Linked DNA regions of Homo sapiens: region 1 is linked to region 2. Evidence: fine-mapped expression QTL. Tissue or cell type: whole blood. Region 2 holds a variant in brackets; the other region holds the start of a gene. Each region is shown on its reference strand, or each on the opposite one.

Evidence for each region.
Region 1: it holds the start of CLC, and the variant in region 2 is fine-mapped to the expression of CLC in whole blood (TOPMed, PIP 0.95).

The regions. Positions count from the first base shown.
Region 1 is chr19:39,736,208-39,740,739 of GRCh38, forward strand. CLC (Charcot-Leyden crystal galectin) reads right to left here and starts at 1,822. Exons shown (of 4, transcript NM_001828.6): 1 at 1,731-1,822. The coding sequence starts at 1,745.
Region 2 is chr7:75,864,714-75,868,961 of GRCh38, forward strand. No RefSeq gene overlaps it. Among named protein-coding and RNA genes, the nearest start is that of RHBDD2, 12 kb to the right of the region's middle. RefSeq lists an enhancer at 1,818-2,112. The variant A/G (reference allele first, on the strand shown) is at 1,636.

The sequences.
Region 1 (4,532 bases), not on the chromosome of region 2:
GAAAGAAACAACACTTGTTGAAAGAGAGAGGGAAACGAACAGGAAAGAACAGGAAACCCCTGTGCGTGGGAGGCACATACATCACAATCATCATGGGCAATGGACGTCCTTCCCAGAAGGGGCACACATTGCTGAGAGCACAACCGCAGTACTTGCACAAATGAAGATTGTGGGTCAGGGAAGTTATTGGCTAGAATCTATAAATGGATGGTATTTTTCTTTTTTGAAACAGGGTCACACTGTCACCTAGGCTGGAATGCAGTGGCACCATCAAAACTCACTGCAGGCTGGGCGTGGTGGCTCACGCCTGTAATCTCAGCACTTTGGGAGGCCAAGGTGGGTGCATCACTTGAGGTCAGGAGTTCGAGACCAGCCTGGCCAACATGGAGAAACCCCATCTCTACTGAAAATACAAAAATTAGCCAGGAGTGGTGGCACAAGCCTGTAATCCCAGCTACTCGGGAAGCTGAGGTATGAGAATCGCTTGAACCCGGGAGGTGGAGGTTGCAGTGAGCCGAGATTGCACCACTGCACTCCAGCCTGGGAAACAGAGCGAGACTCTGTCTCAAAAAAAAAAAAAAAAAATTACTGCAGGTTTGAAGGCCTGGGCTTCAGTGAACCTCTTGCATATGCCCCCCAGCAGCTGGAACTACGGTATGCAACACCACATTCAATAAATTTTTAAATTTTTGGAAAGATGAAATCTTGCTATGTCTCCCAGGCTGGTCTACCAGTCCTGGCCTGACATGGGCCTTTCAATTCGGCCACCCAAAGTGCTGAGACTACAGGCCTCAGCAAACATCTTGATGAATATCCACTGTAAGCTCTGCCTTGTACCTTCCTGGTTTTGGGTGATTCAGTCTCTTAAATCAAGTCCCTCAATGTCCTTCTCTAGCATCCTGGCACTCAATGGGAAGGCCAGGCTAGGGTAGGAGACAGGGAGAGACCTGAGGCTGGAGGCAGGAGCCAGTGGTCACTGTGTGCAGATTCCACCTAAGGAACCATCAGCCCCATCGTCTGTTTCTCACCCCCATTCTGCTTGGGAAAAGGCACCTGAGAATTCATGCATTCTGCTCTCATAAATGCTCAGAGATAAGTCCTCGGTAACTCAAGGGCCCCAAGATCCCACAAGTTCTGTCACCGGGGATCCACAGTGATGCACAAGGGAAGTTAGACAGAGTACTGCTATGTGGGGAGGAACCTTCACATGCACAGAAGGCCACATGCATGTTCCCAGTTCAACACCCAGTCACATTCCAGCACACACACTCACAGTCACACAGAGCCGTGCCACTCACTGAGTCACACACACCTGCTCACTGTGCATATAAAGATGCTCATGCACTGGTCCGGCTGTGCTCACACACACACTCACATCACAGTCATGAAGACAAAACACAGTCACCTGATTACAATCACTTACACACCCACCCATATCCTGGAGGGCCATACACATCCCGTCTAAAGTCACATCATTTTTAGCAGAGTTTACTCTCATCAGATACCATCACATGCTCACAGAGGGTCACAATGTTCCAGCATCCACACCCCCTACCCCCCTACCCCAGGAGCATCTCAGATACCATAGCCCTAGGGTCTCTCTTCCACACACCCACAACTCTCAGTAAAGCATTCACAGTAGAAATTTTCATATTTTCATCCCATAAAATCTCCCTCTTCCCTTTTCTGTGTGACCTGAGATTATTGAAGGCTGTGCCTTTTTAACTCACGGGTAGCAGGGACATTGTTGTCTCCTTCTGGGTGGCTCTTCTGAATTGTGTCCAGACTTCTGTGTGAATCTCTGAGCTGCAGAATTTAAATGGCCCCTATCAGCCCTGCCTCTGGCTTTATTCCTGATTCCAAGCCCCTCCCAGGAAGGTTTCCTCACACAGTGAGAAGGGGTGGGGTGTCAGAAACAGACTCAGTCACAACCACACCTGTTTGGAGGCCTGTGCCTGTGATGCAGCAGAAACGACAGTGAGGGAGGTACTGGAGGAGGAAGGGGTCACCAGGGAAATGCACAGATAAAGACGATGGAGTGAGGATGAGTGGTGTGAGTTCCAGCCTCCATGCTTCTCATGAAGCCTTTTCTCCACTGTGCAGAATCTACCAGGAAGGTGTGCGTTCTCCTAACCTGTGCAATGGTAAAAAGCTGGAGATCCTGGGGGCAAGGCACTTGGCTTTGAAAGAAAATCCTCCTCCTCCTTCTCCAGTGGTTCTGGGAGAGCATAGATCTTGATCATTCGCAGGACCTGGGGACAGAAGTAGAGAAAACACTTGTGTCTTCTTTACCCACCCTCAGATCCCTTGGCTCTGCCAGGTGAGAGCCACTCCCACTCTGTCTCTCAGACACCTGGGCTTTAGGTACGCCCTCTTATTTCCCTATTTCTTTTCATGTGAATCAAAATCTGAGGCTGTCGTTCTCCTGCAGATTCTTGGAGAAAGGTGAGATTTCTCACTCATAAGTGGGAGCTAAGCGATGAGGATGCATTAGCATTAATATTAGTTGTGCTTGACCCGACAATAAATTCCACTTTCCCTGATCTAAAACCTTGACAATTCATTTCCAAGCATGCACTCCAAGATTCTGCTCATATAAATCAGCACAATCACACAGTTCTTTTGGTATATAACGTATTTCCTTAAGATTAATTTGTAATGTCATCCCACTGCATTCCTTGGGTTTTGACTCTGGGTATGGACATGGAAGCAATGAAAAGGGTCAGAGGCCACAATTAAGGAGCTTTGGAAACCCCGTTCTAGGCAACCACCCTCACACCCTGCCCAGAACTGTAGCTTGTAAGAAATTACCACAGAAGGGAAAGAGGAACTGCTTTTCCTTGCAACAGATATGCAATAGAATTTTGAGTAATATCCCAGCTATTCATCTGAACTGGGGAAGAAATATCAGTTCAGGGCGTCTGGCCACCTAGTAAGCTGTGGATAAAGATGTTGATGTTATTTACTTCTCAGGCATTCCAGCAATCCTTTCAGTGATGCAGAGAGATTGATCTTCTTTAACTTCCATATCCTCTGCACAATAGCCCATACTTCTGCTGGTTGCAACTATTTCTTCAGAAATCCATTATGCCCTACGACTTGCTTTCAGTCTTTCTTTTCAACTACATCTTTCCAAGCACACACTGTTCCCCCGAAAAACTTTAGGTTTTGTGTATGAAATTATATAATATCTGGGATTTGCTCTAAAATAATCTGGGGATGACAGTTCTCTCCTTTTGCAAACATTTGAAATTTTTTACAGTACAGTTTTTAATTAAGTAGCCAGTACATAGACTATATATAAAAGAAAAACAAAATTATCAGTACTGGCATGGCTATATCTTCAAGAAATGCTGTAGTATGAAAAGGCATGAAGAAAACATGCATAATACGAGACCAATTATTTTAACGACAAAAAAATAAAATTGATCTCATAAGTACACACAAACATTCATAAATGCACTAGAAAATGTCAAAAGAAGGCATTCCTTGTAGGGGGGGACACTGGGTTTAGAAGAAATGAGGTCAAGGTATAAATCTGTAATGTTTGAATTTTACCCACAAGAAGGTATTATATTACTTAAATGATTTGTATAAACATTTTAAAAATAAAGGTCATAATACAGTTAAAATTTTTAAAAAATTTAATCACAGTTTGGAACCCAGCAACCATGCTTCTTGTTACAGAGCACTCTTTCTATTTTGTGTTCTGTTTTTCCTGTTCCTCCAGCGATGTTCTAACACTCTATACAGCAAGGTGGGTTTGCTCAGTCACCTCTCTATCCTGGAACATCCCTGCACCACATAAATTGCCTGTCACAAGGTAAGTGCTCAATAAATATTCATTGAATGCATAACTTTCAGTGCCATGGTTTTATGCCATGTAGTGATAACCGGTGTTTTCTTTTAAGAAGATCCGCATTTATTCCCTTTCTCCTTCCCTCCCTCCCTTCCTTTCTTTTATACAGAAACATCAGTGTGATTCCTGGCCTTTGTCTTTCCATCACACTCTTCACATGACTGACAGGACAACCCCATGCCTCTACTCTCACAGAATAGCCATAGCATGGCCACTTCTCATTGTCTGCCAGTTCACTGACAGCAGCTTTGTGTTTACTACTAAGTGTCTGGCTCACAGCAGATGCTCGATAACTCCATTTCTAAGAAATAAATATCTCTTCCTGTAACTTCTTCCTGCAATTCAAACCAGAGAGTATTTCTCAGGAATTATCAGTTGATTGAGTGGCAAGGTATGTCTGGACTATGCATTTCATTTGAATCTATTAATAGTTTTATGGCTAGAAGAGAAAATGAAACAAAAATGGATTTTCAGCTGGGTGGAAAAGTTCAGTCAGTAGAACAAGTGAGGGAACATTCTGGGGAACAGATGCAGAGTGTGGGCAGGCTGTCATTATGAGTGTGACAGTGTTTACCAGCTGAGCTGACCTTTGTTCTGATGAAAATCTTGTAATTCACTATCCAAATATCAATTATATCTTTGACATACAAAAAAAACCATCGTATCATTCTTA
Region 2 (4,248 bases):
TATGTTGCCAAGGCTGGTCTTGTACTCCTGGACTCAAGAGATCCTCCTGCATCAGCCTCCCAAAGCAATGTGATTACAGGCATGAACCACTGTGCCTGGCCTGTTTCAAAATATATATATATTTGAGACAGGGTCTCTCTCTGTCACCCAGGCTGGAGTGTAGTGTTGTGAACATAGCTCACTGTAGCCTCGAACTCCCAGGCTCAAGTGATCCTCCCACCTCAGCTTCCCAAAGTGCTGGGATTACAGACATGAGCCACTGTGCCTAGCCTCTCCTATACCTTTTAAAGCCTTTTGTTATTTGTGTAACATACTATAATCACTGTTAGGAACCTTGCCTCTCTCAATAAAATATTTTAGGTAGCATTCTGTATGGATACTAGCTTCCTTAGTTTGGGGTTTTTTTTTTTTTTTGGTTTTATGACTGCAGAGGATTACTTCAAAAGGACACACCATAATTTATTGGCCAGGCATGGTGGCTCATGCCTGTAATCCCAGCACTTTGGGAGGCTGAGGTGGGTGGATTACCTGAGGTCAGGAGTTTGAGACCAGCCTGGCCAACGTGGTGAAACCCCGTCTCTACTAAATACAAAAAATTAGCAGGTCATGGTGGCACACACCTGTAATCCCAGCTATTTGGGAGGCTGAGGCAGGAGAATCGCTTGAATCTGGGAGGCGGAGGTTGCAGTGAGCTGAGATCCCACCACAGCAATATGTCTCAAAAAAAAAAAAAAAAAGGACGCGCCATAATTTATTAATCATTCCCACATTGATCGACATCTGGGTCATCTCTAATCATTTATTCTGGCAGTCAATGCTGCAATGAATAACTTCTTAAACCACTTTGCACTTAAGCAAGGATATCTACAAGTTAGAATCCTAGAAGTGAAATTGATCAAATATATGTACATTTGTCATTTTGATAGATATTGTCAGATTCCCTTCTATAGAAATTGCACCCAGCTGGGTGCGGTGGCTCATGACTGTAATCCCAGCCTTTTGGGAGGCCAAGGCAGGTGGATCACCTGAGGTCAGGAGTTCGAGACTAACCTGACCAATATGGTAAAAGCTCGTCTCCACTAAAAATACAAATATTACCCAGGTGTGGTTGTGGGTGCCTGTGGTCCCAGCTACTTGGGCGGCTGAGACAGGAGAATTGCTTGAACCCAGGAGGCAGAGGTTGCAGTGAGCCGAGATCGCGCCACTGCACTCCAGCCTGGGTGACAGAGGGAGACTCCATCTCAAAAAACAAACAAACAAAAATTAGCCAGCCGTGCTGGCGTGCACCTATAATCCTAGCTACTCAGGAGGCTGAGGCAGGAGAATCACTTGAACCTGGGAGATGGAAGCTGCAGTGAGCCGAGATTGCACCACTGCACTCCAGCCTGGGTGACAGAGCGAGAGTCGGTCTCAAAAAAAAAAAAAAAAATTGCACCCATTTTCGATCTCATCAGCAATGTTTTTGAGTGCTTGTTTCCCATTCCTTCGAAAATATAAATGGGTCATTAGTCATTACCCTCCCAGCTTAACCTCTCTAAGCAACTTCCCACTGTCCTTGGAAACAGCATCTACTTTCCTCGCCATGGCCTCCAAGGGCTTGCCTACACTATTTGACTCCTGCCTGTCTCGCTTCCC[A/G]TGCCCTGCTGAAGGCAAGTGTTGGACACATCTAAGGGATGCCAGCCAGCAGGGTTGGGAGGGAGTTGGCATTTCTTCCCAAGGGGATGTGTGCTTGGGCAGTGGACCTGCAGACTGTGCCCATCCTATGAATGTGGGGAAAGAGAGCATGGCACATGAATGCTAGGGAAGGCAGGCTGCAGTTTCATAACTTTGGGGGATTGCCCGAAGGTACGATGGACCTGGGGAAATTGGGGCATTGGGGTGCCTGTTTAAAGCCATCGTCTGTAAGTGAGCCATGTCACAGGCCAGCCAGCAGAGGACAGTATTCTGCTTTGGGATGAGGCCATTTCTCCATCAGACCAGAGGAAGCCAAACCCAGCTGTCCATCTACCACGGGGCAGTGAGGACCCGGCGTGGGGGCTGCAGAGCAGTTAAATGAGCCGGAGTCCGCAGCTGGCAACCAACCCCTGCGTTCTACCGATGACAGCCTCCTGTTGAACAAGGAGCCGCACTGCTCCCTGGGGCACGGGCCTGAGAAGCTGGGACCACCCGGGGTTGGGGGCTGGAGGGACCTGATGTCCTGCTCCCCTGGGATGCCCAGGTGGTGGATGAGGTCCAGGTCCCACCCAACCCTCAACCATTCCATCCCTGCAGTCATTCCGTGCCTTCCCAAGGTGTCTGCAGATGTGCAGTGGAGGTTGGGGGTCAATCCAGGAACCACCCGAGAACTGGCTAAGTGGGATGCCTGGCACTGGTCCCAGAGCTGTCTCAGCTGTGCAAAGTGAGATATCACCTTCTAAACCCTACGATGCACCTGTAAAGGGAAAATGTGAAATCTCAGAACCCCCGAAACTTATGCCACAGGGAAAGCTAAGCTTAAAGGCTGAGTCACGCAACACACTCTCTCTCTGTCTGTCTGTCTATCTGTCTGTCTGTCTCTCTCTCTCTCTCTCTCTCTCTGTGTGTGTGTGTATGTTAGACAGGGTCTTGCTCTGTCACCCAGGCTGGAGTGCAGTGACGCAATCATGGCTCACTGTTGCAGCCTGGACCTCCTGGGCTCAAACAATCCTCCCTCCTCAACCTCCCAAAGTGCTGGGATTACAGGCATGAGCCACTGCACCCAGCCGGGAAGAAGTATTGATACAAGCAACAACATGATGAATGTCAGATCATCTGGCTGAGTGAACGAAACTAGGCCAAAACCACAAGTGCATATTATACGATTCCATTCATATAACATTTTAGAAAATCTAAACGAATCTACAGTGACACAAAGCAGCCATTGGTTGCCTGGGGATAAAGAAGGCAGGGATTATAGAGTAGAAGGGATTATAGAGGGGTGAGATATAATTTTTGGGGGTGGTGGGTATGTCATTATCTAAATTGTGGTGATAGTTTCATGGGTGTGTGTATATATATATGTATGTATATGTATATATATGTGTATATATGTATGTATATGTATATATGTGTATATATATGTGTGTATATATATATGTCAAAATGTATCAAAATCTATACTGTAATTATATGTAGTTTATTGTAAGTAAATCAAACCTTTTTGGTTTTTTCAAGATGGAGTTTCATTCTGTTGCCCAGGCTGGAGTGCAGTGGCACAATCTTGGCTCACTGCAACCTCCACCTTCTGGGTTCAAGCGATTCTCTTGCCTCAGCCTCCCGAGTAGCTGGGACCACAGGTGCCTGCCACCACACCTGGCTAATTTTTGTATTTTTAGTAGAGACGAGGTTTTGGCATGTTGACCAGGCTGGTCTTGAATTCCTGACCTCAAGCAGTCCTCCTGCCTTGGCCTCCCAAAGCGCTGGGATTACAGGAGTGAGCCACCACACCCGGCCTCAGTAAATAAAATTTTAATAAAACTTTTTTTTTTAATGCCAATATAGTCATGTCTGTAATCCCAGTGCTTTGGAAGGCCAAGGCAGGAGGATTGCTTGAGGCCAGGAGTTCGAGACCAGCCTGGGCAATATAGCTAGAACTTCTGTTTACCAAAAAAATGCTGATGTGTCAAAAATAAATATTTTTCATCACTGGCTCAAATTTTAATATCTTCCTTTGCCATGTATACTGCATGAGGTGGGGAATGGGGGAATGGAATAATTTGGGAAAGTAAAGATGATCAAGGCTCAGTGTTAATTCTACAATATATTGCTTTCATTGCCTTAACCATGCATGCTTATTACAGCAAAGTCAGAACAAGGTTGAGACGGGGTCTCGCCGTGTCGCCCAGGCTGGAGTGCAATGGCGTGATCTCGGCTCACTGCAGCCTCTGCCTCCCAGGTTCAAGCAATTCTCCTACCTCAGCCTCCTGAGTAGCTGGGATTACAGGCGCGTGCTACCACGTCCGCCTAACTTTTTGTATCTTTAGTAGAGACGGGGTTTCACCATGTTGGCCAGGCTGGTCTCGAAGTCCTGACCTCGTGATCCACCTGCCTCGGCCTCCCGAAATGCTGGGATGACAGGCGTGAGCCACAATGCCCAGCCTATAACATTTTTATAAATGTTTTTGAGTGAATGGAGAAATTAATTACTCTGTTCTGTGATGCTTGGTGTTTGTCAGCTTTAAATCCCCCATAGCACTCAGATCTTAGAGACAGAACTTTGGTCTTTATGGG